Homo sapiens: one gene and its partners. The protein of the gene in region 2 interacts with the protein of the main gene of each other region in a pairwise test. Each region holds a gene or a part of one and is shown on either strand. Other genes may lie near its edges.

What was found.
Region 1: the proteins of SLC66A2 (region 2) and STX12 interact in binary tests that used the Homo sapiens proteins (3 or more experiments, as listed by UniProt).
Region 3: the proteins of SLC66A2 (region 2) and KCNK5 interact in binary tests that used the Homo sapiens proteins (3 or more experiments, as listed by UniProt).
Region 4: the proteins of SLC66A2 (region 2) and TMEM44 interact in binary tests that used the Homo sapiens proteins (3 or more experiments, as listed by UniProt).

Annotation. Positions count from the first base shown.
Region 1 is NC_000001.11:27,811,214-27,818,235, forward strand, and holds part of STX12 (syntaxin-12), read left to right. Parts: intron 1-949; coding exon 950-1,055; intron 1,056-6,637; coding exon 6,638-6,710; intron 6,711-7,022. UniProt on the Homo sapiens protein: SNARE promoting fusion of transport vesicles with target membranes. Together with SNARE STX6, promotes movement of vesicles from endosomes to the cell membrane, and may therefore function in the endocytic recycling pathway.
Region 2 is NC_000018.10:79,913,643-79,920,664, forward strand, and holds part of SLC66A2 (solute carrier family 66 member 2), read right to left. Parts: intron 5,759-7,022; coding exon 5,542-5,758; intron 2,838-5,541; coding exon of another isoform or gene 2,789-2,837; exon of another isoform or gene 2,546-2,788; intron 2,053-2,545; exon of another isoform or gene 1,748-2,052; intron 1-1,747.
Region 3 is NC_000006.12:39,226,461-39,234,253, reverse strand, and holds the start of KCNK5 (potassium channel subfamily K member 5), read left to right. Parts: upstream 1-4,778; 5' UTR 4,779-5,142; coding exon 5,143-5,328; intron 5,329-7,793. UniProt on the Homo sapiens protein: K(+) channel that conducts voltage-dependent outward rectifying currents upon membrane depolarization. Voltage sensing is coupled to K(+) electrochemical gradient in an 'ion flux gating' mode where outward but not inward ion flow opens the gate.
Region 4 is NC_000003.12:194,588,415-194,595,436, reverse strand, and holds part of TMEM44 (transmembrane protein 44), read left to right. Parts: intron 1-2,366; coding exon of another isoform or gene 2,367-2,396; intron 2,397-4,604; exon of another isoform or gene 4,605-5,582; intron 5,583-5,810; exon of another isoform or gene 5,811-5,963; intron 5,964-6,294; exon of another isoform or gene 6,295-6,416; intron 6,417-6,797; coding exon 6,798-6,908; 3' UTR 6,909-7,022.

The DNA of each region.
Region 1 (7,022 bases), on a different chromosome or scaffold from region 2:
GAGGCTGAGGCAGGAGAATCTCTTGAACCCGGGGGGCGGAGTGAAGTAAGCGCCACTTCACTCCGGCCTGGATGAAAGAGCGAAACTCCGTCTCAAAAAAAAAAAAAAAAGCCAGGCATGGTGGCTCAAGCCTGTAATCACAGCACTTTGGCAGGTTGAGGCAGGAGGATAGCTTAAAGCCAGGAGTTTGAGACCAGCCTGGGCAACAAAGCAAGACCCCCATTTCTAAAAAGAATTTTTTAAAAAGTGTTATAACATTTCACTAGCTTTCTGTTAAGAGGGTTTTTTATGGATTGTTTTTTAATAGAGATGAGGGTTTTGCTATGTTAGCCAGGTTGGTCTTGAACTCCTGGCCTCAAGCAGTCCTCCTGCCTCGGCCTCCCAAAGTGCTAGGATTACAGGCATGAGCCACCGCGCCTGGCCTGTTAAGAGGTATTTAACCCAAAGCATAACCCCAAGGAAATTTTGGAAAACTAGGAGATGTGATTCTGTTGAACTAACTGGCAAAGCACTGATAGGTCACTTAGCTTGCTCTTCTCCACCCACTTAGTACTGAAGGTACTAATGCAGCTTGCACTTTGAGAGTGCCCTGGAAGATGATGGTGCAACATAATTCAATGAGTTCAAATCTCTGGCTACTTTCCTTGTCTGGCAAGCCCCAGTGAGATTACAGAGTATACCCCTAAATGGAAACAGCCAGGAGTCCCATCCGTCATAATTCTGCCACATGTCAGCTTTGCCCATGGAAGCTGAGTCTTTGTTTTCCTGATATCATCAGCTCTTTGCTTCTGGATATGAAGAATGTGGCCCTCCAAGACTTTATTGATAGCAGAGGACTGGAGCCCTGGTAATGTCTTTGCATAGGTTCTGCTGGCAGTAGAGATGTTGGAGATATGTCTTGTTATGCCTTTGAGAGGAGAAATCACCTAGTGTGCCTGTTTCCCTGCAGCCATGAGGAGTGGAACCAGATGCAGAGCCAGGAGGATGAGGTGGCCATCACTGAGCAGGATTTGGAACTTATTAAAGAAAGAGAAACGGCAATTCGGCAGCTGGAGGTGAGAGCCACGTCATGTTTTTTGTTTGACTCAGTGTGTCTGCAGGTATCTGAACTCCTTAGTTCACTTTAATTCTCTTAGTGATTATGAAAAGGCATAAAATGTGTCATTGTGTGATTTGTATTTTTTCTGTCTCAGTGTAATCATGGTGGGTTTGAACTACCGGTTTTTTTTGTTTTTTTTTTTATCTTGGATGGAATTTCGCTCTTGTTGCCCAGGCTGGAGTGCAGTGGTGTGATCTTGGCTCACTGCAACCTCTGCCTCCTGGGTTCGAGCGATTCTCCTGCCTCAGACTCTCGAGTAGCTGGGATTACAGGCATGTGCCACCACGCCCAGCTAATTTTGTATTTTTAGTAGAGACGGGGTTTCTCCATGTTGGTCAGGCTGGTCTTGAACTCACGACCTCAGGTGATCCACCCTCATCGGCCTCCCAAAGTGCTGGGATTACAGGCGTGAGTCACCGCTCCTGGCATGAACTACTGTTATAATGGCATTGGCCTTGGTGCCCAGGAGTACTCAAATCCTTTCCTCAATCACCACATCTTATACGGATCACCACATCTTATTTCTCCTGGAGAAATGTACATGGAGAACAGAACAAGGCAGACAGATATTTTATTGCTCATTAGAACTTTGACCTCAAATCTCAATGCCAACCTCCGGGTTAGGCAGGACTCCATGGAGAGCCCCTTTGCTTAGTCTGAAGAGCCCAGAATAAAGGCAGGCCAAAAGTCTTGCTCCATTTTTGTATATCCTAAAGTCTAATCCCAAGTTGTACATCTTATCCCTTCAGTGAGTCAGAGAAATAGGAACAGTTTTTGAGGTGGAGGTTGAGGGAGAAGTCTGTAGGCCTTTCTTACCTAACTGAGCTTTCAACTTTAATTTTGCACAGTGACTAATAAAATATCCTTTTTTTTTTTTTTCCGAGACTAAGTCTTGCTCTGTCGCCCAGGCAGGAGTGCAATGACACTATCTCAGCTTACTGCAGCCTCCCTCTCCTGGGTTCAAGTGATTCTCCTGCCTCAGCCTCCTGAATAGCCGAGACTACCAGTACGCACCACCACACTCGGCTAATTTTTGTATTTTTAGTAGAGACAGGGTTTTGCCATTTTGGCCAGGCTGGTCTTGAACTTCTGACCTCAAGTGATCTGCCTGCTTCAGCCTCCCAAAGTGCTGGGATTACTGGCATGAACCACTGTGCCCAGCTAAAATATCCTTAAACCTGAGTTTTCTCCAGTTTAGTTTTCTCCGAAGGTAGAAGGCTGCCATTGCTGGGATCAGGGGAGGAGAAAAGGAGAGAGGGAAATTTTGAGCTCTTCCTTGGCCTCCATCTGTAGCAGTGGTTCTGAACTGTGAGTGCACATGAGGATCACCTGGAGAAGATTTTTTTTTAATGCCCCAGCTCTCATCCACCACTAATTACCTGATGGGATAATGTGAAATTCCTGTTTATTATATGTTAAAAATGGGCAAATATCCATTATTTTATATGGTTCAAACTAATAAATCATAATTTCTGGGCGTGAGGCCCTGGGCATGGGTATTTTTTTAAAAAGTTCCCCCAGGTGATTATAATATGCAGCCAGGGTTGAGACCCACTGCCCTAAAGGCCATCAATGTCTGTTTTTATCTATTTATTATTTATTTTTTGAGTCAGAGTCTTACTCTGTCACCCAGGCAGGAGTGCAGTGGCGCGTTCTTGGCTCACTGCAACCTCCACTTCCTGGGTTCAAGCGATTCTCCTGCCTCAGCCTCCTGAGTAGCAAAGATTATAGGTGCCCGCCACCACTCCTGGCTAATTTTTGTATTTTTAGTAGAGACGAGGTTTTGCCATTTTGGCCAGGCTGGTCTTGTCTGTTTTTAGATGGGATAGTTTATCCTTAAGTTATGATTATTTTATTGCCTTCAAAAATGTCATATCTTTACTCTTTTTCACCTACTGCTACTACTAATTGAATTAATTGTCTAACATTAGAAATATGGCTAAGTGCAATGGCTCATGCCTGTAATCCCGGCAAGTTGGAGGCTGAGGCAGGATGATTGCTTGAGCCCAGGAATTCAAGACAGCCTGGGCAGTGTAGCAAGACCTTACCTCTACAAAAAATAAAAAATTAACCGGGTGCTGTAACATGTACCTGTGGTCCCAGCTACTCAGGAGCCTGAGGCAGAAGATCACTTGAGCCCAGGAGATCAAGGCTGCAGTGAGCCATGATCGTGCCACTGCAATCCAGCCTGGGCAACAGAGCAAGACTCTGTCTCAAATAATAATAATAATCCTTCCTTCAAAGAAAAATTACTAGCCGGGCGCGGTGGCTCATGCCTGTAATCCCAGCACTTTGGGAGGCTGAGGCGAGTGGCTCACCTGAGGTCTGGAGTTCAAGACCAGCCTGACCAACATGGTAAAACCCCGTGTCTACTAAAAACACAAAAAATTAGCCGGGTGTGGTGGTGCATGCCTGTAATTCCAGCTACTGGGGAGGCTGAGGCAGGAGAAGTGCTTGAACCTGGGAGGCGGAGGTTGCAGTGAGCAATTGCACTCCAGCCTGGCAACAGAGCGAGACTCTGTCTCAAAAAAAAAAAAAAAAATACAGTTGGCCCTCGATATATTTAGGTTTCACATCCTCAGACTCAAGCAACCGTGGAGTGAAAATATTTAAAAAAAACTAAAAAATAATACAACAATAAAAAATAATACAAATGTAAAAACCAATACAGTGTAACAGTATTTTATATAACACATTGTATTAGTTCAGTACATTACTAATACAATGTAAGTGCTATGTAAAATAGTAATGTAGTATAAAATAGTAATGTAACATTATATAAGTAATATAGAGATGATTTAGAATATAGGAGAGAATGGGCACAAGTTATATGCAAATACTATGCCATTTTATATCAGTGACTTAGAGGGAGGGAGTCCTGGAACCAATCCCCCACGGATACCAAGGGACGAATGTACCGTTATAGCAAAGTGGAGTGAGACATATGGAGCTAAGGAAAGAAATGTAATGGATGCCAGGGTATAATGGATCATTTCATATTCAACAGAGGAAAGTCCAAATTCCTTAGCCTAGGTTCAATTTTCGTATCTAGTAATTTCCAAACTCTGACATACACATTCTATGTTATGGCAAAGCTAGGTTATTTGCTCTTTAACTGAGTTGCCTTTCTGTTCATATGACCTCTCCTTTGCTTTAAGGCACAACTCATGTCTTACCTCTTCTGCAGAGTCTTCCTTTTCTCCACACCTTTCTATACCATTAATTCAGCCATTTCCTATATAGTACTCTTCCTTCTTATTTATTTTATTGTGCACTTATTCCCCACGTCCACCCCAGTTAGCTGTATTCACAGCAACTAGCAGACTACCCCAACTATGGTAGACTCTTAGCAAGTGATTGAAATGCTGACAAGACTTGCTTTAGCAGATAGTCCACTATAGTAGACTCTTAGCAAGTGATTGAAATGCTTGCCAGGTTATGATTCCAATAACCCTTCAAACCTGGAAGGGAATTGCCCTCAAATTTCCATAGGGTCATGCCCCATATGAGCACCCCTTTAATAAGACAGGTTTCCATTGTCTTTCTTCTGCCTGATCATGAGTCAGAAAAACTCAAATATAGGCCAGACGTGGTGGTTCACACCTGTAATCCCAGCACTTTGGGAGGCCGAGGCAGGCGGATCAGTTGAGGTCAGGAATTCGAGACCAGCCTGGCCAATGTGGTGAAACTCTGTCTCTACTAAAAATACAAAAATTAGGGCCGGGCACAGTACAAGCTCACGCCTGTAATCCCAGCACTTTGGGAGGCCAAAGTGGGTGGATCACCTGAGGTCAGGAGTTCGAGACCAGCCTGACCAACATGGTGAAACCCCATCTCTACTAAATATAAAGAATTAGCCAGGCATGGTGGTACATCCTGTAATCCCAGGTACCTGGGAGGCTGAGGCAGGAGAATTGCTTGAACCCAGGAGGCGGAAGTTGCAGTGAGCCGAGATTGCACCATTGCACTCCAGCCTAGCAACAAGAGTGAAACTCTACCTCAGAAAAAAAAAATAGCCGGGCGTGGTGGTGCACGACTGTAATCCCATCTACTGGGGAGGATGAGGCAGGAGAATCACTCAAACCCAGGGGATGGAGGTTGCAGGGAGTTGAGATTGTGCCACTGCACTCCAGCCTGGATGACAGAGCAAGACTCTGTCTCAAAAAAAACAAGTAATAAATAAAAATAAATAAAAAGAAAGAAGGGACGGAGGCTGGGCGCGGTGGATCATGCCTGTAATCCCAGCATTTTGGGAGGCCGAGGCAGGCGGATCAGGAAGGAAGGGAGGGAGGGAGGGATAGAGAGAGAAGGGAGGGAGGGAGGGAGGCCAGGCACAGTGACTCATGCCTGTAATCCCAGCACTTTGGGAGGCCAAGGCAGTGGATCACGATGTCAGGAGTTCAAGACCAGCCTGGCCAACATGGTGAAACCCCGTCTCTACTAAAAATAAAAAATTATCCGGGCGTGGTGGCATGGGCCTGTAATCCCAGCTACTCAGGAGGCTGAGGCAGGTGAATTGCTTGAATCCGGGAGGTGGAGGTTGCAGTGAGACGAGATTGTGCCACTGCACTCCAGCCTGGGTGACAGAGCAAGACTCTGTCTCAAAAAAAAAAGAAAGAGAAAGGAAGGAAAGAGAGAGGAGAAAGAAGGAAGGGAGGGAGGGAAAAAAGGAAGGAAGGGGAGGGAGGAAGGAAAGGAAAGGGAAGGGAGAGAGAGAGAAGGAAGGAAAGAGAGGGAGGGAGGAAGGAAGGAAGGAAAGAAGGAAGGAAAGAAAAGGAAGAAAAAAGAAAGGGAGGGAGAGAAGGAGGGAGGGAGGGAGAAAGACCCAAATATAGGGGATTTTGCCAATGTTAAATTCTTCCACTGCTGTTAGGAAAACAAGCTGCAGTTCAGCCCACTGAGCTGATTTGTGTTTACCTTCTTTGATCAGAGCAGTAAATAGGTTGTAGTCCATTCACTTTGGAACTGCTATCCACAGACCATCAGCTTTTTGTCAGTCAGTTGGGAGTTACCATAGGGCATTGTCCAGTGATGACAGAATCCAGCAACTCCTCACACAGTTCCAGAGTCAATCCCAGGGGAAAAGAGGCTCCTTACTTGTAGCTCCTCCTTGCATTCCTCAGATAGCATGATCTTGTATAAACATTTAAATTCTGTAGTCCAAAGTCCCAGTGGTTGTCATCGGGAGGCACTCAACAGGCTTTTGTCACAAGGCCTAGCAGTCTCCACATAGGGCTATCACACCAAGAATTTGTCTATATCAGCACTCCAGCCTTCTGCTGTACTGTTTGGACTTGGGCGCTCTTACTGGTTCTCATGTAGCATGTCCCATTAATGTTGCTTGAAGAGTGAGTTTATGTGCCTTCTGTTTTACAATATTGGGTAGGCAGCAATAGATTATTTTCTGTTTATGGAGAAAGCATGCTTTGTAGAGCCTTAAAAACACACGTGTTAATAGCTAAAACTTTAGGTACGTGAGGGAAACAAATCTTCTAACATGTTGCTTAATGTTAGTTAATTGTTTTTTGTCTTCCTTAGGCTGACATTTTGGATGTCAATCAGATATTTAAAGATTTGGCCATGATGATCCATGACCAGGGTGATCTGATTGGTATGTATTATTGATACCTTTAACCTCAAGGTGAGTTGATAGTATTTGGCATGCATCTGTAATCCCAGCTACTCAGAAGGCTGAGGCTGAAGCACCATCTAGGAGTTTGAAGCCAACCTGGGCAACATAATGAGAATTTGTCTCTTAAAAAAGAAAGAAAGAAAGAAAAAGGAGTTAGGCTAGGCGTGGTGGCTCAGGCCTGTAATCCCAGCACTTTGGGAAGCCCAAGCGGGCAGATCATGAGGTCAGGAGATGGAGACCATCCTGGCTCACACGGTGAAACCCGTCTCTACTAAAAATACAAAAAATTAG
Region 2 (7,022 bases):
GTGCACGTGTGTGCAAGTACACGAGACACAGGACTTTCCAGAAGCAGGGCTGCTACGAGATCAACTCGGGAATTCTTGAGTCACTTCCTATCAAACATCCTAGAGACCTTCGGTTTAATGTGGAGCTGAGGCTGTGGGTCCCAGGGAAGATTCCAGGCAGCATCTACGCCTCCCTCACCTAGGGCAGTGGCACTAGCAGGTCCCCAGAGAAAAGGAGCTGAAGTTCAGGCTGTCACGTTTCAGGCTCATGTCACCATTCGCCACCAAAGTCTTGTTTGTTTTTTTACATGGAGTCTCACTCTGTTGCCCAGGCTGGAGTGCAGTGGCGCGATCTTGGCTCACTGCAACCTCCGCCCCCCAGGTTCAAGTGATTCTCCTGCCTCAGCTTCCTGAGTAGCTGGGATTACAGACGCCTGCCACACCTAGCTAATTTTTGCATTTTTAGTAGAGACAGGGTTTCACCATCTTGGCCAGGCTGGTCTTGAACTCCTAACCTTGTGATCCACCTGCCCTGGCCTCCCAAAGTGCTGGGATTACAGGCGTGAGCCACCGCGCCCAGCCCAAAGTCTTGGTTTTTTGGGTATCTGTTAAGTACGTGTGTGTGCACATTTTAAATACGTCATCTTAAACACGACCCTGGAGATTATACAGGAAGCACACATGATCTATCAAACCTGCATTCAGAAACCACTACCCACAATGGCTTCAAGAATCACAACTCCTGACAGGGCTGGGGATACCACGACGCCCCCATCAGGCAGATCGGAGCACAAAGGAACCTGAGACGTCTCTGACCTGCCTCCAGATGGGGGGTGGTCTGACAGCAGGAAGTGGGGGGTCACTCCAGCCCACCCCAAGGCTGCCGTGGCCCCGGAGGAACAGGCAGGTACCACAGGAGCACCCAGGAAGTGGCAAAGGGGAGAGACACCCCCTTGCCCAAGCTGCGTCTGGAGAGCGAGTGGAACCCAGGCCGGGGAGGGCTGAAGATCCACGGAGCGGTGGCCTGGACCCATGCGGAGAAGCCAGAAGACCACACAGCAAGGGGGGCAGAGGTGGGGACCCTGTGCCCCACAGGCTGCAGTGCCAAGGGAGGAAGGTGGGCAGGGCCCACAGGCCCAAAGAGACGGAGCTTCAGACGCGCAAGTGGAGCCGGCTCCAGACTCAGCCCTGCCCAGAGGGAGCCTCAGGAACAGCCCCCAGGTCGCCGGCCCTAGCCCTGCAGGCCCTGCCTTGCCCAGGCTGCCAGGTGGCGTCTCAGGTTGTGGAAGGCAGCTGCTGGGCCTCCAGAATTCACACTCGGGTGATACTAAAACCCAGGGCCAAGGTGAAACGCGGCGTCAGAGCAGCAGAAATAAGGACGTGCGGCACAAAGGCTGGGCCTGGAGTGGTCCTGTTCCCTTTCCCGTTTAGTGAGAACCCTCCCAAAACCTTCCCTCAGGCCATGCAGAGGCAACGTCCCCACAAGCAGACCCCAGACTTTGCCTGGCTGGCAGGCATGGGGTCAGGCTGGCTGTGCGTTCTAGCAGCAAACGCCTTATGTGTTCCAGTGGGAAAACCGCCCGATGGTCACTCTTAAAAGCGCAGACCGGATGAACTGGGCCTGGGGAGGGCTGAAGCTCCCGGCAGCACGGGCGGGGCCAGCCCCACCCCCTCCGCATCCCCCCAGGGCCCGCCCTGTCCCCTCCCCATCCCCCCGGGGCCAGGCCAGGGCCTCAGTGCACAGACTCTCCGGGGCGCTCATTACCGTAACTACAACCACACACTCCATCACTCCGAGCCGACCCGACGCTGCTGCTCCTGGTCCCCGTTCCTGACGAGGATGCACAGGGTCTCAGCGGTCCCGCACTTGAAGCTGGCTGACCTCGCTGCCTACTTCCTCCGCAGAGACTGCTCCATCTCCCTCAGCCTCAGGACTCCATCCAAGCCCTCACAACGTGCCAGCTGTGTGGGTCGCCCGTCTTCTGCCCGGCCCTCCCGGCAGGGACAGAGGCCAAGCCTCCTGTGGCCCGATGGGGAGATGGGGTGCCTGTGACATCCCGTCCCCAGCCACACCTGAGGTTTATAAAAGCAGAAGTTAGCCCAGGTGATCTCACAGGGGCTTGGCACTCACCCAGGGAGCAGGGCAAACTCAGAGGTAGAACACCTGCACCTCCTGGGATCCCTGAGACACGTTCCAAGTTCCGCAGCCAAGGAGAAGTATGCAGGCAAAGGACCATGACCCCGGCTCCCATCTCGCCCACACAGCACCCCCAATACTATTTTACATGTGTGTAAGTGTATCCGCATCCCACACACACGGGTTTTCATCCACGGTTCCAGGGTGCTAACTCCCACAGTGCTTCTGTACCCGCGGTGCTCTCATAGCCGCAGTGCTCCCGTACCCTCCCATACCCACGGTGCTCCCGTACCCATGGCGCTCCCATACCCACAGCGCTCCCGTACCCACGGTGCTCTCATACCCGCAGTGCTCCCGTACCCTCCCATACCCACGGTGCTCCCGTACCCGCGGCGCTCTCGTACCCGCAGTGCTCCCGTACCCTCCCATACCCACGGTGCTCCCGTACCCGCGGCGCTCTTGTACCTGCGGCACTCCCGTACCCGTGGTGCTCTCATAGCCGCAGTGCTCCCGTACCCGTGGTGCTCCCGTACCCGTGGTGCTCCCGTACCCGTGGTGCTCCCGTACCCACAGTGCTTCTGTAGCTCTTGTCATGACGTTGGGGTGCTTTAGGCCTCAGAAAACAGAATCTCTCTGACCTTTTGCCCTCTGTTCACCTGCCCAGGCAGGACTCTAACCCTCATTCCAGAGAGGGTCCTGCCGACATCCTGGAGGAAGGAGCCTGCACAGAGGACAGAAGAATCTCAACAGACCCTGCTGGGTTCACGTCGCACCCTTAGGTCCAATCACATTTCAACACCATTGTCCATCACGCCTATCCAATGAGGTCTCCCAAGTAGACAGGCTTTGGGAGGCTCCGGGGAGAGCTGAATTTGCGGGAGCCGGCAGGAGAGTGAACAGGAGCTCATCTGTGTGCCGTGAGGGCGGCAGCCCCACTCCACGAGACCGAGCTCCTGCCTGGGGACCCCTCCACAGCTCCCTCTGTGTATCCCCTCACTCGGCGGTTTATGTCTGTCCTTTAAAATGCTCTTTGTAAAATATCAGCAACCGTGTTTCCCAGAGCTCTGTGAGCCGCTCCAGCAAGCTGACAGAGCCCAAGGAGGGGTCATGGAACCCTAACATGGCCCAGAAGTTCCAGAGGCCCAGATTTGCGATGGGTGTCTAAGTGTGGGTGGCATCTGGCGCTGTCTCTGGGTCAGGACAACCGGCGGTGCCCGCCGCAGGACCGACTGCCTGCTCGGTGCTGGGGAGACGCCTGCACATGGAAGTGTGTGTGCTGCTTGTGGTGAAGTGAGTGAGAACAGGAAAAGCACGTCCAATGTGTTTCTTCCACACACAGACCCCCCTTCCACAGGCGTTTCTGGAGCCTTCCCCGTGTGTGAGAAGAGCAGACCTCAGGGCCTAAGACAGGCCTGCCTGCAGGGCCGCCTCGGCCAGCATCTGGAAACTCGGGTTTGAAGAGGATTCCCACGTCCCCCCAGCTGACGGGGCAGCCCCTGGGCTGAGACCTTGAACAACATGCCTGCGCTGAACAGCAAAACCTGCTACCCTGGAATCGAGAGCAACAGCTCCTGCCAAGCCTGGGGCCCCTGTGAGGTCACACACGGCCAGCTCCTTGTGAGGGGCCAGGAGGCCGGCATGTGGGGTCCGGATCCGCTAGACCCTCACCACGAGGCTGTGGTGATGCTCTGGAGGGCACAGGCCTGGCACCCAGGCACCTCCCACAGATCTCCAGGTCGCAAGCTCGGCACGCGGGCACTGCCCACAGGATCTCCAGCTGTGGGGTGGCTGGGGACGCCACACTCCGCCGGACAAGGCCCACGTCCAGCCGGGGAGCCTACATACGACGCCCGCCCTGAGACCCACTTTCTCTCTGGGAGCATCCCTGCCTTTTGGGCTCCACACCGAAGCCCTCAGGGCTGCCACTGCCCAACCCAACAGTGAGGGAGCCTGTTCCAGCCATGGACACCCTCTCGGGCCTCCATGCACCCTCGCCCGAGAAACCCCAGCAACCCCCCTGGTCTTGATTCACTGTAATCACACCAACCAGGGCAGCCCAATCCCCACCTGCACCCCACACCACACCCCAACCTGTACCTACCTCACACCATGCCAGCACCCCACACCTGACCCATGCCCCACACCTCTACCTACAGCCCACACCGGAACTCCATACCCCACACCCCAGCCCACACCTACACTTCACATCTGTGCCTATGTCCCACACCCACACCTACGCCACACACCTGTAACTGCAACCCACACCTATAACCCTGGCCTGCACCTACATCTCACCCCCTACCACCACCCCACACCTACGACAAGCCCTCCTACCTTTACCTCTCACGGGCAACTGAACCTACACACAACCCCCGGCCCTCACACCTCTGCCCACACGCCAAACCTGCAAATACTCAGAGGTCTCTGAAAGCCCTCAAGAGAGTGCTGTGGCCCCTGGGCACCCGTTCTCCAACACAAAAACGCGTCAGCCCCTCTCTTCCAGGCTGTTTCCCACAAATAACAAATCCAAGAATAACATTCCCTCCAAATCACAGCCTCAGCATCTGTATTGGAGACCAGACTCAAGCAACGTGTGGGGGCTCAGGGTGTTCTCCGTGAGGAGCGGGCACCGGGGGGCGGATCCCCAGTGAGGAGCGGGCCCGGGGGGGGGTCCCCAGTGAGGAGCGGGCACCGGGGAGGGTCCCCAGTGAGGAGCGGCACCGGGGGGTCCCCAGTGAGGAGCGGGCCTGGGGGTCGAAAGTGTGAGGGACTAGAGTTTTCTGCCCCCGCCACAGCGAGCAGATCTGTTTTTATTACAATGCAGTTTCCATCCAGGACCTTGACTGAGCCCGTGGGCATCATGCTGCTCGCGTTGTGCCCTACCTCTGGCGGTCACGGGGACGTCCAGGCACGCACTGGTGCAGGGCGCCCAGGCATGGTCTGTGGTTCCGAACGTCAGCCTGCCCAGCCTTCTACCACATACCTCAGAGGCCGGAGGCCGTGCTGGGGCCAGTGGGGAAAGACCGAGGACAGTGTCCAAGGCAGCCCCCAGACCACCTTCCCTGCCCCACCAGACCCGCCCTGACCCTGGGCCAGGCTGGTTGCCCTGCACTCCTCCTGCCCCGTCTGGCCAGGCACTCGGACATCCCTCCCACTGGAAGGTTCCGTCTCAACGGCCCTGAAGGAGCAGCTCCCAACCCCGTGCTGGGTCTCGGCTGCCCCTCATGCGGCCCACACAAGCTCATCTGCTCCAGCGCGAGGTCGAGGGGCCAAGGCCTATAAACCTGCTATTCTTTAACCGGCAGCTTCACAGGTCAACGTGGGAAATACACAGCCAGACACACAGGCGTTTGATTTTTACCAAATCTGCAGCCATGTGGTGCCTCTGGAGCAGTGGTGCTTCCGTGGCGGCATCCCCGGCCTACCTCATGCCCTCCGTGGACTGGTGGCGGTGGTTGCGGTAAAGCTGGGGCACACCCAGCATGGCTTCGGTCAGCACAGCCAGGAAGCCCAGGGTCTCCACAAACAGGGCGGAGTCAATGGACAGGTAGGTGATGTAGCCCGCCACGCCCGTGAAGGCCAGGACGCACTGCACGTAGTCCGAGAAGCTGCTCCACTGCCAGAAGTGGTGGGGGTCGAAGTCTAGGGCGAGAGGGAGAAGCAGCCTCAGCACAGCTTAGGGTCCAGGTGAGGAGTCAAGGTCAGTGGGGAGAGACGGAACCGAGTGAGAGGTCAAGGTCAGTGGGGAGAGACAGGAACCGAGGGAGAGGTCAAGGTCAGTGGGGAGAGACAGGAACCGAGGGAGAGGTCAAGGTCAGTGAGGAGAGACGGGAACCGAGGGAGAGGTCAAGGTCAGTGGAGGAGAGACAGGAACCGAGGGAGAGGTCAAGGTCAGTGGGGAGAGACAGGAACCGAGGGAGAGGTCAAGGTCAGTGGGGAGAGACAGGAACCGAGGGAGAGGTCAAGGTCAGTGAGGAGAGACAGGAACCGAGGGAGAGGTCAAGGTCAGTGAGGAGAGACAGGAACCGAGTGAGAGGTCAAGGTCAGTGAGGAGAGACGGGAACCGAGGGAGAGGTCAGGGTCAGAGGAGGAGAGACAGGAACCGAGTGAGAGGTCAGGGTCAGTGAGGAGAGACAGGAACCGAGTGAGAGGTCAAGGTCAGTGGGGAGAGACAGGAACCGAGGGAGAGGTCAAGGTCAGTGAGGAGAGACAGGAACCGAGGGAGAGGTCAGGGTCAGTGGAGGAGAGACAGGAACCGAGGGAGAGGTCAAGGTCAGTGAGGAGAGACAGGAACCGAGTGAGAGGTCAAGGTCAGTGGAGGAGAGACAGGAACCGAGGGAGAGGTCAAGGTCAGTGGGGAGAGACGGAACCGAGGGAGAGGTCAGGGTCAGTGAGGAGAGACAGGAACCGAGGGAGAGGTCAAGGTCAGTGGAGGAGAGACAGGAACCGAGTGAGAGGTCAAGGTCAGTGAGGAGAGACGGAACCGAGGGAGAGGTCAGGGTCAGTGAGGAGAGACAGGAACCGAGGGAGAGGTCAAGGTCAGTGGGGAGAGACAGGAACCGAGGGAGAGGTCAAGGTCAGTGAGGAGAGACGGGAACCGAGGGAGAGGTCAAGGTCAGTGGAGGAGAGACAGGAACCGAGGGAGAGGTCAAGGTCAGTGGGGAGAGACAGGAACCGAGGGAGAGGTCAAGGTCAGTGGGGAGAGACAGGAACCGAGGGAGAGGTCAAGGTCAGTGAGGAGAGACAGGAACCGAGGGAGAGGTCAAGGTCAGTGAGGAGAGACAGGAACCGAGTGAGAGGTCAAGGTCAGTGAGGAGAGACGGGAACCGAGGGAGAGGTCAGGGTCAGAGGAGGAGAGACAGGAACCGAGGGAGAGGTCAAGGTCAGTGAGGAGAGACAGGAACCG
Region 3 (7,793 bases), on a different chromosome or scaffold from region 2:
ACTGCAGTGGCACTATCTCGGCTCACTGCAAGCTCCGCCTCCCGGGTTCCTGCCATTCTCCTGCCTCAGCCTCCCGAGTAGCTGGGACTACAGGCGCCCGCCACCACGCCCGGCTAATTTTTTGTATTTTTAGTAGAGACGGGGTTTCACCATGTTAGCCAGGATGGTCTCGATCTCCTGACCTCGTGATCCGCCCGCCTCGGCCTCCCAAGGTGCTGGGATTACAGGCGTGAGCCACCGCGCCCGGCCTAAAATTCTTAAACAGAATATAAAACAATGTAAACAAAAATGTTACAAAACAGAAATAAAAACAGCATTTGTGTTGGATTACCAAGTGTTCATTTTACCAAGAGGATAATCCCTTTACCTAATTGAAATAAGGAAGAAACAAAGGTGGGTGTGAACCTTTTATGGAGAGATCCTGGAAGCATGACCTTGGCCAAAACAACTGATGGCTCAGCCAATCTCTGGAGATGAGACCTGCAGAAGTTTCATTATTTGTTGCTGTCAAGGTGAAGCTCAACTCCATCCTGTGGATGAAGAGTCAAACTCTGTAGAGTATTTGAAGAGATTTATTCTGAGCCAAATATGAGTGACCATGGCCCATGACACAGCCCCAGGAGATCTTGAGAACATGTGTCCAGCGTTATCAGAGTACAGCTTGTTTTTATACATTTTAGGTTATAGGTGAATTCGAAGATTTTCTGATTGGTAGCTGGTTGAGTTTATCTAAAGACCTGAAATCCGTAGGAGGAAATGTCTGGGTTAAGATAAGGGGTTGTAAAGACAAGGTTCTTATTATGCAGGTGAAGCCTTCAGGTAGCAGGCTTCAGAGAGAATAGATTATAAATGTTCGTTATCCAACTTACAAAGGTGCCAGACGACCCCGGGAGCGCAGGGAGCGCTCCTGCAGGAGCATTTCAAAATAGGCCAAATGAATATATTTTGGGGTAAAATACTTCGATTTCTCTCAGGGCCTGCTGTCATGATTCTTATTGCTACAAAGAGTCTGTACTGTCAGTCTTAAGGTCTCTGTTTTTTGGGTTTTTGTTTTTTTTTTTTATTGAGATGGAGTCTCTATCATCCAGGCTGGAGTGCAATGGTGCCATCTCGGCTCACTGCAACCTCTGCCTCCCGGGTTCAAGCAATTCTAATGCCTCAGCCTGCTGAGTAGCTGCGATTACAGACATAAGCCACTACGCCCAGCTAATTTTTGTAGTTTTAGTAGAGACAGGGTTTCACCATGTTGGCCAGGTTGTGCCTTAAGGTCTCTGTTTTAATATTAATGCTGGTCAGCTGTGCCTGAATTCCAAAGGGAGGAAGTTATAAGGAGGCATGTCGGCTGGGCGCTTTGGATCACACCTGTAATCCCAGTGCTATGGGAGGCCAAGGTGGGCAGATCAGTTGATGTCAGGAGTTTGAGGCCAGCCTGGCCAGCATGGTGAAACCCCATCTCTATTAAATATACAAAAAATTAGCCGGGCGTGGTGGCTCATGCCTGTAGTCCCAGCTACTTGGGAGGCCGAGACATGAGAATTGCTTGAACCCAGGAGGCAGAGGTTGCAGTGGGTTGAGATTGTGCCACTGCACTCCAGCCTGGGTGACAGAGTGCGACGCCCTCTCAAAAAAAAAAAAAGGAGCCATGTCCAACCACCCATTCCATCATGGCCTGAACTAGTGTTTTGTGTTTACTTGAGAATGCCCTTGGTCAAGAGGAAGGGTCCATTTGCTTGCTTGGGAGGGGCCTAGAATTTTATTGTTGGTTTACATTCCTCAGAGCTGATTGCCTTCCAAAAGGTTGCACTCTGAAATTATTATCAACCCTGATCAATAATCATAATACTAAGAACTACACGTATGCTATTGGAATGGATTTATTTATCAGCCCTGTAGGAAAATATATATCTCACATCACCTCATTCCCATTTACCCACTTTTCCCTTTTCCAATCTTAAGGCTCGTGTTGTCTAAATATTCGATAGTTTCAGCACAGTTTACATTTTATAAAAGCCCCCACTGGCTGCTGTGCAGAGAGCAGGTGTGTGCCCCTGATCTACAGAAGGTCAAGTTGATCCAACTATCTGGCTGGGGCAGGGGAGTTGGAGAGGGGAGTGGGGAGATGGGGAGGGGAGGGGAAGTTGGGGGAGGGGAAGCACATTCAACTGGGATGGAGACAAAGGAGAGAGGCAGGAGGAGGGAGAATGAAGAGCTGGGGAAGGAGCTTTGGAAAAATACAGGAAAGCAAAGGATGCGGCGACAGAAGGAGAGGATGAGGAGTCAGTCAGCACCACATGGAGAGCAAGAAGGAAGAAGGGGACAGGAAATGCAGAAACAGAGTGGAAGGACAAAGAAACTACAACATACAGAGGCCTCGAATAAAAATCAATTCATCTCAAAGTGTTCAGCATTTTCATGAGGCTGTGAGACCGAAATAGGAAGAGGCCCTTTATTTTCTTAGGAAGAGAACACAGACCGGAGGTGGGAGAGGAATGGTAGGGAATTTTCCAAACAAAGAGAGGGCCTGTGGCCTCTCAAACTGCCCCCACCCCATGCTCACTGAAGCGTTCACACTGCAGCCCTGAACTCTTCACAAACAGGGTGAACTCCATCCAGAGAGGGGGGATCCGGAACCCATGCTTGGTTTCCATCCCAGCTGGAGGGCTGGAGAATGAGACTGCAGAGCTAGGGTTCAGGCCACAGCCTGGGGGACAGGGTAGGCAGGAGGTCAGCAAGGCTTAGAGAAGATGGATATGTTGGGTTGGGTGAGAGGCCTGGTGCTGGGAGTGGGTTGTCTACAGAGAAGCACCCCCAGGGCCTTGTCCAGGATGATCCTTGGCCAGGGGGGTCCTGAGGGGACTGGCACTGCACACCTCAGGGATGCAGTATCAGGAAATCTGGGGCTCCCCAGCTTCCTGCTCTGGTCTTCTTCTCTGGACACGCTCATGTTGCCATAAGGAGAGACAGAAACATCAGCAAAATCAGATCAATGCTTCCAACTGTATCCCTAACCCCTCCATTCCAGCCAGATTTGGAGATAGTACAGATACCCCCCTCCCCAAGTAAAGTGTCTCTTGACACCTTGGGGTTCAGGCCACAGCCTGGGTACAGGGTGGGTAGGAGGTGAGAAATGACTCCCCTTCTTCTCGATGGAAAGAAAAGGCCTTGGCCAGGGGACAGTGCTCAGGGACTCTGGCCACTCCAGTACCTGCCCCTACAGAGGCCAGAGAAGGGCAGGGCCAGCCCCTGGTACAGAGCACTGAAAGGAGGTTCCCCCTCCAACTTCTGACTGGTGCTGGTTGAAAGACTGAACAAACTAACCCACTGAGCTTTTTTCCTCACTGCAAAGTGGGTCGAATGACAGGGCCTGCTTATGATGCATGGAAGGGATTCAGTACTTCCTGGGGTTTACAAGAGCTCAGAGAATGGCAGCAAGGCGAGTTAGAAACATCCTGGGCACCTGTTTTTAACAAATTCATTCACTCCTTCATTGCACACATGGTTATTGAGTGTCTGCTATGTATGTAACAAGCACTGTGGATACATCATTACACAAGACAGATTCTCCATCTCCCCAGCAGACATTTCCGTGTGTGTGTGTGTGTGTGTGTGTGTGTGTGTGTGTCTGTGTGTGTGTGGCGGGGAGAGGGCACAATACAGAGTAAACAATAAATAAAGTTATATAATATAGCAGAGGGAATTTAGTACTAGGAAGGACATAAAGCCAACGAGGGAGATAAGGTGGCGGGGGTGGAATTTTAAATCAGCTGGAGCATATGTATGAAAGTGGGCCGGGCGCGGTGGCTCACGCCTGTAATCCCAGCACTTTGGGAGGCTGAGGCGGGCGGATCACCTGAGGTCAGGAATTGAGACCAGCCTGGCCAACACGGTGAAACCCCGTCTCTACTAAAAATACAAAAATTAGCTGGGCGTGATGGCGTGCGCCTGTAGTCCCAGCTTCTTGAGAGGCTGAGGCAGAAGAACTGCTTGAACTCGGGAGGCGGGGGTTGCAGTGAGCCGAGATAGTGCCACTGCACTCCAGCCTGGCGACAGAGTGAGACTCCGTCTGAAAGAAAAGAGGAAAGGAGAGGAAAGGAGAAGAGAAAAGAAAAGAGAAAAGAAAAAAAGAAAAGAGGCCAAGTGTTTCCCGTAGAGATACTGTGTATTGGGGGGGCGCACAGGGGTGCCACGAATTGAGCTGCCCACTCCTTCCAGATGCAGGGTTCTCACCCGGGTAGGTGAGAACGGGGTGAGGGGGAGGAATCACGCGTGGGTGGCTGGATTAGTTCCTGATGTCCTCTGATTCCCTACAGCTTCTTCAGCCCCGTTCTAACCCCCTTCCTCAGGCTTACAAGAAAGTGTGTGGAAGAGAGACACGGAGAGACTGAGCATTAGACTTTTTTGGAAGAAACATCAGTAAATGAAAATGGAATTACAATAAAAATAACAAAAGCAATAAACTCCTGACCTCAGTCACAATCATTTTAGTTAACACGCCAGTCCTAATAACAAACACGAGTCCCTGAGACCGCAACCCCTCGGGCACCGCAGGGCGTGCAGGTCTGGGCGGGCGGCGCAGCCTCCCCTGGCGGCTGACCCTGGGAGCGCGGGGAGCGCCAAGCCTCTTCTAGCGCTCACCTCGCGCTCACTCCTGCGCTCGCCGGGCTGCTTGTGCGGGGAAGGGGCGGGGCCCGCCTGGGCTCCTCCCCGGTCGGAGCCCGGAGCAAGGGGGCAGAGCGCGCCGGGCGCTGGTTAAAGAGGCGTGCGGAGGCGGGCGCGGCGCATACTGCTAGTGGCGCGCGGAGGAGCGACGCGTGGAGAAGCGGCCCACGTGTCTGCCCAGAGTCAAGTCCTGTGTTCTTCCCGCTCCTTACGCATCCGCGGTCCAGGGCGCCCTTTCAGCCCCGCTGGTGTTCGCCCACCCCGGGCCGCGTGAGTGGGGCCCCACGCAGCTCCCCGCACTCCGTGGGCCAACTTGGCCAAGCAACTCTGTCCGGGGAGCGGTGCTTGCGGGGGGTGAGTACCGGGCACTGCGCATGCGGAGCTCCAAATTCAAACAGCTGTTTTCAGAGGCTGGAGGGCGGGCGGACTGGTAGCAGCTGGGGCTAGGAGAGGCTTTCTCTAGGAGGCGGCCGCTCGGGAGCCATGGTGGACCGGGGCCCTCTGCTCACCTCGGCCATCATCTTCTACCTGGCCATCGGGGCGGCGATCTTCGAAGTGCTGGAGGAGCCACACTGGAAGGAGGCCAAGAAAAACTACTACACACAGAAGCTGCATCTGCTCAAGGAGTTCCCGTGCCTGGGTCAGGAGGGCCTGGACAAGATCCTAGAGGTCAGTCGCCGCCTGTACCCCCATATACATCTGAAGCTGGCTTGAGCTTTAGGGGGCGCTGAAAGGAAGACCCCTTCACAGCTTTGGGTGACCCTCAGTCCCTGTGGAAGGTCCAGGGGGTGATGAGAGAGCGTGTCTCATCATGGGTCAGGCTTCGAGGATCTGTCGCTCACCCGAGGGACACAGGGGTCCCCCAGGCGCGGAGACTCTTTGGAACTTAGTTTGGCCGGAGACAAATTGGAGTTGATTCCCGGGTGAACTAGGCTCCACGGTGTTTCAGTGTGGGTGTGACGGTACCTCCCTCCTTGGGAAGAGGCTGTGGGACGGATAAAGGCGTTTATCTTTCCCTGGAGACGCTCCCGGAGTCTGGGAGCCAAGCCTGGTGCCATCCCCTCGTGTCTCCACCTCCCCGCTCCAGGGCCAGTGCCACGCCTGCCAGGCTTTTCTTAAGGAACGTGAACCCGGCAGAGTGGCGGGAGGGTCCCTCAGCCCGAGCCTGGGCAAAATCTTCCGCCCCCAGCAGAGTTCCGGAGAGGAGCTGGAGGCTCTGTGGGGCCCGAACCCACGGGATGAGGGCTGGTGCCTGGAATGCTGGGGACGCGCTCAGGCTTCCGGGAAGGCTTATCTCGCGGAGACATCCTTCAAGGGCTTGGAGTAAAACTTTGTGAAAGTAGCAGGTTGCACAAACGAATAATACCCGCGTAGTCCCTTTATGATGGGGGAGGAGAGTGTGTGCGGAATTGGGGTGGGTGGGGGACTTCCCTCCGTGCTGACATTGGGAACCGCTTATTTTCTGGTGCACAGCCCGATGGGTGGCATTGACCTCACTTTGGATAAACGGGCTGCCTATCCTGGCTGAGACCTTGGGGCCCATTTGGGGACCGAGGCCCTCTACCCCAGTTTCTCGAGGGCTCAGCTTCAACCATCAACTCTTCTTGGCCTGCTCCCCCAGTGGAATGACCAGGACCTGGGTGAAAGTTCTAGATTGCAGCAGGTAGGGAGTAGGGGTAGATTGTCCAGGGTGTTACCTTGCTCTCAGGGTGAAAGATGCCAGAAAGGAGGTCTGATGAGAAGCAACGTTTAGTCTACAGCAGCACCTCAATACTTTATGCCTATCTAGTCGTCGCTCATTTTCCAGCCTCCGTTTCCCCATGTGAGAAACGGGAATGAGCCCATCCTCATTCCTTATTTCTGCCACGGACTGTTAGGTTGGAAGCATTTGGAAAACATCAAAATCTTGTCCCCAGATTGATGGACATCACACAGATAAGCATATACGTATTTGCTGGCAGCCGTGTGTGGGGAGACTTGTCCTCCAAGGGGTCCTGTAGAAGGGGAGGTTTAGTCTAGCAGGCTTAGTGTTGGATTTTAGTGGAGAGTCTCTTGCCCTGTAGCAGTTTCCCGGGTAGAGGCAGATGGGAGGTGATGGTGGGGAGGATAAGCTTCAGTAGATGGTTGGTTGGTTTACCTCCTAACAGCAAGAGTCCTGGCATGAAGAGTCTACATGGCTTCCTTCTGATGGGCGTCTACCCTGGGGGGTGTGTTGTGGGGAGGGGGTTGCTTTATGATTTCCCTTGAGGAAACAATTCCTCTAGAGAACAAGTTTTTGTTTAGTTTGTTCCAGGGCTTTGTTTAGAGGGGGAAGAGGGCAGGCAAGGATGATAAAGCCTTGAGCTGCCCTCGAAGTGTTTCCCTCTAAGCTGTTGCTCCAACACTGCAGGGGAAGGAAGGAAAGAATTCAAGGCTAAATGTGGGAAAATAAACTTCAAAACACAAGGCAAAGGGAAAGGCTGGCGGGGCATACGGCGGGGGGGGCGGGGTCCAGGGGTTAGGCAGCCGGGTGCAGCTGGTGGTCATAGCTTTGGAGGCTAGACGGCTTCTTAAGGTATTTGAACAAACAAAATGCCTCTTATTTAGCAGTCCTGTTAAATCTGTCAACATTTACCCCCCTACCAAAAAAAAGTAATGGGCAGGTAATTTTTAGAAAAAGGACTTGGGCATCAAGCCAGTCTGCTTTGGAGGCTATTATAGATAAGTTCTTGAACAAGGACAGCCCTGTCCTCATCCCCGGCCAAAGAAACTCCCAAACCAACCCCAACTGGGCGAGTCCCTTCCCGTCATAGGAAAAACCCCAAGAAATGAAAATGGACAAGTAGAAGCATTTGCTGACATCAGTTTTAATCTGCAGAAATCTGCCTTGCTCTGCTTTCTTGTGACTTGGGGTACTGCCTCAGGCCTCAGGATATTGGTTTAAGGAAAAATGAAAACTCAAAAATCTTCTTTCCCATCTGGCTGCTTGGGCATTTTCCACCTGACGCTCTGTGTTTTAGCTGGTTCTGAATCACCTTGGAATCATGAAGGAGCCCCTAGCTAGGAATTCCTGGGGTACAACCAGGGGTGGGACAAAGATTGTTGGAAGAGATGGGGTGCAGTCTGAGTTGGGGTTTCTCTTACCCTGAAAGTTG
Region 4 (7,022 bases), on a different chromosome or scaffold from region 2:
AAAGTGACCCTATTTCCTCAGTAACTTAGACACATCCTAAACTCTTCCAGAATTAAAGAAACATTACTACATGCTATATAGACAAAGGCTATAGGATGCTTCTAGATTTCAGAAGCAAGGAAAAATGTGCTTTTAGACATGAGGCAAATTAAAATGCCGTATGCAGTGGTTTGAGGAGGTGATAGAATCATGTTTCTGAAGATGATTTTAAGGGCAAGTGGAAATGCTCATTGTATGTTAAAGGAGAAAAGCCATTTGCTTTTATTATATTATACATAATACATACATGTTTCAGAGGCATATTTAATCTTTGTAGAGGCCTTCTTCTAAGGATAGAATTTTGGTAGATCTTTGTTTTTTGAAAAATGTTCTATAATGAACACATTTGCTCTTGAAACAGGGAAAAGACTATATAATTTTATTTATTTTTAGGCTGGGGGGTTGAGGAGAGACCTCAGTTACAAAGATTTGGGTTAATTGTACTCCTTAGGCACACTATCATTAGCGGTTTATAAAGTAACTTTAAAAATACTGACTATTCCCACTAGAGGGCGCTCTTCCTAAATTTTAGATTGCCCATAACGCTGAAGATTTAAGCTTTGTAAAGGAAGTTTCAAGGTTTCATTTCAGCACAGCTGGGAGACTCGAGCCTATTTATTTGCTTGTTTGTTTGCTTGGCTTTAAATAAACTTTTTCGCTAAGTTAACTTTTTCAACCCTCCTTTATATCATCGGCATTTCTGTCTTTTCCAGAGTGTGTGGAACCATCAGTTTAGTAATTTGTATCCCTTCCAATTAATCTTTTTTTTTTTTTCAGTTTATGTTCCCTCAGCAGGATAGTGTTAGATGAAGAATGCTAAGGAATTATCACTAATTTTGTTAGGTATAATAATGGCATTGTGCTTAGGTTTTTTTTTTAAGTCCTTATCTATGAGATACATTTTGAAATATTTGTGGATGAAATGATTTACGCCTGGCTGGGAGCAGTGGCTCATGCCTGTAATCCTAGCACTTTGGGAGGCTGAGGCAAGCTGATCACTTGAGGCCAGGAGTTCGAGACCAGCCTGGCCAACATGGTGAAACCCCATCTCTACTAAAAATACAAAATTAGCTGGGCATGGTCCTGGGCGCCTGTAATCCCAGCTACTCAGGAGACTGAGGCAGGAGAATTGCTTGAACCTGGGAGGCAGAGATTGCAGTGAGCCGAGATCGTACCATTACACTCCAGCCTGTGACAAGAGTGAAACTCCATCATACACAGATAGATAGATATAGATAGATAGATAGATAGATAGATAGATAGATAGATAGATAGATAGAAAATTAGGCCAGGTGCTGTGGCTCATGCCTGTAATCCCAGCATTTTGGGTGGCCAGGGTGGGAGGATTGCTTGAGCTCAGGAGTTCAAGACCAGCCTGGGCACCATAGACCTCATCTCCACTAAAAAAATAAAATAAATGTCAGCCAGGCATGGTGGTACACACCTGTAGTCCCAGCTACTCAGGAGTCTGAGGCAGGAAGATCAGTTGAGCCCAGGAGATGGAGGCAGCAGTGGGCTATGACCATGCCACTGCACTACAGCCTGGGCGACAGAGCAAGCCCCTCTCTCAAAAAAATTAATTAATTGATTTTTTTTAATGAAAAATGTTAAGGAGTTGAACATGCTTTTGTTTTAATGTGATAATAACCCTAAATCCTGTGGACTGCTCGGACTGCCTGCTATTTAATTTAATAGACATTCCCAGATCAATGTAACAGATATTCATAGATTCTTAGCTCATGTCAGAAACATATGTTTCCCAGGCGCTGCAGGAGGTGCTGGAGTAACAAGGGCAGACGTGATGCCTGCCCTGCAAGAACTTGAGTCAGACATATTTGAGGTTTGGAGTGGAACCAACCATGCAGTAAACACTGACTACAAATGAATCTTGGCTGGTAGCAAATACCCCATATTTGCAAGGCAGGAATTTTATTGGCATCTCAGTTTTATGGGTTTGAGTTGAATCATCTCAGCCATGTGGTTAATAAATGGGAGATTTATTATTATTACTGCTACTCCTCCTAATAATAATAATAATTTCTACTAATAGTAATTTTTAAATCTTGATAGATTGTAATTTTTCCCAGGACGTGCAGCCCTTCATAATTATCATAACTATCTCATTGATCATTTAACTAAATTGTAACTGCTAGTAGCTGCTGCCTTCCTGCTTGCTGAAGTCACCTGTTCCTTTGCCCCCAACCATCTAAGGGCCTGTCTCCTGGCTCACTGAGCAGACAGGAGCTGGTCCTGAGCTCTGCTCTGCTGTGGGATGGTGGCAAAATCTGTCCAACACTTTTTCTGTCTCTCTTTTTATTCTGCAGCAGAAGTATTGGGAGGCCCTAAACTCGGAGCAGGTATGGACGATCATGCTCTTTCTCTTCCAGGAGGGACTTCCTATGGCTTGATTTCAGTTCCTGTTTTTGTTAGACCTTGTTAGATGGCTAGACCCATGACAAATTCCTTCAGTAAAAAAAGAATGTCAGGCCAGGCGCGGTGGCTCACACCTGTAATCCTAGCACTTTGGGAGGCCGAGGTGGGCGATCACCTGAGGTCAGGAGTTCAAGACCAGCCTGGCCAACATGGTGAAACCCTGTCTCTACTAAAGATACAAAATTAGCCGGGCATGGTGTCACATGCCTGTAATCCCAGCTACTCAGGGGCTGAGGCAAGTGAATCGCTTGAACCTGGGAGATGAAGGTTGCAGTGAGCCGAGATTGCACCATTGCACTCCAGCCTGGGCAACAAGAGTGAAACTCCATCTCAAAAAAAAAAAAGTCAAAATGAGAGGCAAGACTGAGGATGAATGGGATTTTCAGGGCTCTCTCAGGTCAGAGTTCTTTCTGCTTTGGGGGTATTCAGGTAAGCCCAAGTAATAGGGACTCCAAGAAGACGTGTAACCCAGTGAAGAAACATGGTTTGGAACAACAGTAGTAGTGGCCGGCATGGCTGCAGTAGCTGTTGCAATAAACAGTTCCAGACATTGTCATTCTGGGACCCTGGGCAGCTGGCTGCTGTCTCCATGCCACCCTTGCCTCCAAGTGACAGGCATGTTTTGTGACAACTACCTGTGCCTGTCATCTCCCAGGATTGTTTCTGATATGAAAATGGATCTTTTGCTCAGATTCTCTTCATGCCTGGTTTCCAGCAATGATTTTTTTTTTTTTTTTTTTGAGACGGAGTCTCGCTCTGTCGCCCAGGCCGGACTGCGGACTGCAGTGGTGCGATCTCGGCTCACTGCAAGCTCCGCCTCCTGGGTTCATGCCATTCTCCTGCCTCAGCCTCCCGAGTAGCTGGGACTACAGGCGCCCGCCACCGCGCCCGGCTAATTTTTTGTATTTTTAGTAGAGACGGGGTTTCACCTTGTTAGCCAGGATGGTCTCGATCTCCTGACCTCATGATCCACCCGCCTCGGCCTCCCAAAGTGCTGGGATTACAGGCGTGAGCCACCACGCCTGGCCCAATGATTTTATTATAAAATGAAGTTTTTAGGCCGGGCACGTTGGCTCACACCTGTAATCCCAACACTTTGGAAGGCTGAGGGGGGCGGATCACCTGAGGTCAGGAGTTGGAGACCAGTCTGGCCAACGTGGCGAGATCCCCATCTCTACTAAAAATACAAAAATTAGCCAGGTGTGGTGGTGTGTACCTGTGGTCCCAGCTACTCAGGATACTAAGGCAGGAGAATCACTTGAACCCAGGAGGCAGAGGTTGCAGTGAGCCCAGATCATGCCTCCAGCCTGGGTGATGGAGTGAGACTCTGTCTCAAAATAAATAAATAAATAAATAATGAAGTTTTAAAACACATTATTCTGGAGAGTCAGAAAAAATAGATTCTAAATGTTTTCTAAGATTTGTACCACTTTATTTTTACTTACTTATTTATGTATTTATTTATTTTTTGAGACAGAATTTCACTCTTGTCGCCCACGCTGGAGTACAGTGGCGTGATCTCGGCTCACTGCAACCTCCGCCTCCGGGGTTCAAACGATTCTCCTGCTTCAGCCTCCCAAGTGGCTGGGATTATAGGCGCCTGTCACCATGCCTGGCTAATTTTTTGTATTTTTAATAGAGATGGGGTTTCACCATGTTGGCCAGGCTGGTCTCGAACTCCTGACCTCAGGTGATCCACCCGCCTCAGCCTCCCAGAGTGTTGGGATTACAGGCGTGAGCCACCACACCCAGCCTATTTATTTATTTCTTGAGATGGAGTTTCGCTCTTGTTGCCTAGGCTGGAGTACAATCACACAGTCTCAGCTCACTGCAACCTCTGCCTCCCAGGTTCAAGCGATTCTCTTGTGTCAGCCTCCCAAGTAGCTGGGATTACGGGCGCCCACCACTATACTTGGCTAATTTTTGTATTTTTGGTAGAGACGGGGTTTCACCATGTTGGCCAGGCTGGTCTTGAACTCCTGACCTTAGGTGATCTGCCCGCCTCAGTCTCCCAAAGTGCTGAGATTACAGGCGTGAGTCCCCGTGCCCGGCCTGTACTAGTTTAAAGAGCTCACCTGATCAAAGTGACAGGTTTCTGTCTGCAGGCTGCTGAACTGGTCACGGTTGGCAAGAATCATTCTTCAGCAGCCATTTAAGAAGCTCGAGCAGTGGTTCTCAATCATCAGGGCATCTAAGAATCACCCTAGGAGCTTGTAAAAATGCCAAACCTTAGGTCTCTACCCCCTACCCAGGGGCTAGGGTGGGCCCCAGCATCAGTGTTTTTAGCCAGCAGCCTGGGTGCTTCTGGTGTGGCTGGTCAAGCACACGCTGTGAGAACAATGATCTAGGTCTCAGGCCTCAGCTTAGAAACCGTTTTCATCAAAGAGCACACTGACCATCCTCAGAGAACAGAACAGGGCCCTACTTTTTTCACTGGGCAGGTGGGTCACGTAGGCTGAGGGGCCTGGTGAGCTCTTTTATTTGGGGTCTGATAAGGTCAGAAAGGAATTTGGTTCAAGGGGTCCAGCCAGGTCTGCGACCGCAAGTTAATGCGATGTTCTCACTGGAAGTGGCTGGCACAGCCCCAAACAGGTGCAGGGGACGAGCTGCCCAAACCCAGTCACTGCAGGGTCACTGGGAATCAGGTGGTCTTTTTAACATGATGGCTTTTAAAATCGCCAAGTATTAGTACTCGATTCAGTTATTATCAGTAAATCACTAACAAACTGGGCTCTTTATTTCTGTCCAAAACAAGGCCACAATTTGTGTTTTATCACTGGGATGGCATGGCCATTGTGTCAATGGCTCAGGGAGACTTCAAGATCTTCGCTGGAACCTCTAAGGATTGGAATGTTCGATTCAGCTTCAGTGTGAGCAGCTGTCAGGGCATCTTTCTTGGAGAGCATGTCCATGCCTGGGTCTATTATCTTGTCCAAATAGATCGTCTGCCCAGGCAGACACAGCCTTTGTCATCTTTGCTTCTTGTTTCCTGGGTTTCCTAGTACTGTCAAATGTGACCTTGTGCCTCAGAATCATCATAGACGCTTGGAAATGGGAGAGATCTTCTTATCTCGTTGCTGATCCAATACCACAGCATACACATGGGGAAACTGAGGCCCCAAAAACGAAGGCAAATTAGTGACAGGAGGAGAACTGGAGCCCAATCCCTACTTGCCTCCATGGCTGGAACCTCAAAGGTAACACCAAGGATCCCCTTGGGCTCTAATCCATCATCTTAGAACAGCAGGAGGGCTTCACAGACAGCTTTGTCAATGCTTCTGTGCCCACTTGTATTAACCCGTCACTCACCCCTGCAAATTTCAACTTCCCAAACCCACCTGAGTCGGTGATGAACTATTCACTGGCAGTGCCCCCCCGCTCTGAATTGGGTTTTAAGTGATGACAAGTCGGCTGAGCCTCAGGTTTAGAGGAAACACCGTGTAGGAGCAGGAGCGAACGTTTGCTCTGTTCCCGTGGAGCCCATCATCTACCTGAGACAACAAGGCAGATGTCCGCATAAACGCCAGGGCTGTCCGTGCTCAGGGGCAAATCAGTGGAATAGGTAATACAAAGAGAAAGGCAGGTGAGAGCTCAATGGGCTAACACGGTCAAGGTAGGCTTCCTGGGGGAAGAGGTATTTACCTGGCCCATAAAGAATAGGTTGAAGCTGGGCATGGTGGCTCAAGCCTGTAAGCTGAGCACTTTGGGAGGCTGAGGCGGGAGGACTGCTTAGGTCCAGGAGTTCGAGATCAGCCTGGGCAACATTGCAAGACTTTATCTCTACTAAAAATTAAAAACTTAGCCAGGCATTGTGGTACACACCTGTAGTCCCAGCTACTCGGGAGGCTGAAGCAGGAGGATTGCTTGAGTCTAGGAGTTTGAGGCAGCAGTGAGCTATGATTGCACCACTGTACTCTAGCCTGGGTGACACCGCAAGACCCTGTCTTAAAAAAATAAAAAAGGATTAAGTTTGCCTGGTTTTTTCCAGGAATGAGTTAGGCATGGAGTCAGGATAAGGAGAACATGACTCAGTGTCACTAGATAAGGACTTGGTAGAGGCAGAGAAGAGTGGAGAATGAGGGCGGGAAGGAAAGTGAAGCTGTTATGTTTAGGGTGGTTGTTCATTAGTTGCTTGATGTAAAGTTATGCTTGCCTCCTTAGGTCCCAGAAACACAGGCCTGGGTAACTTGTCCTTACCCTTTTGTCCTTGTCTGTGCCTGGATCATGAGAACCAAGATTGGAGCTTTTGTTTGGGTCAGGGGTTATGACAGATGAGAAGCATCTATCCGTTCCACCCAGCTACCCTTTGCATCTTTTCTCCATAGTGGGACCCTGAAGATGTGAACCTCGAAGGCAGCAAAGAAAATGTGGAGCTACTGGGATCCCAGGTGCACCAGGACTCTGTGAGGACAGCACACCTGAGTGATGATGATTAACACCTTCTGGAGCCAGCTCATCAGCTCAGAGCCCAGGGTCAGGAGTTCGTTCAGTAACGCAGCGGGAATCAATCTGCACTGACACCGCGGCAGGAACTGAAGCTGCCCTGGCAA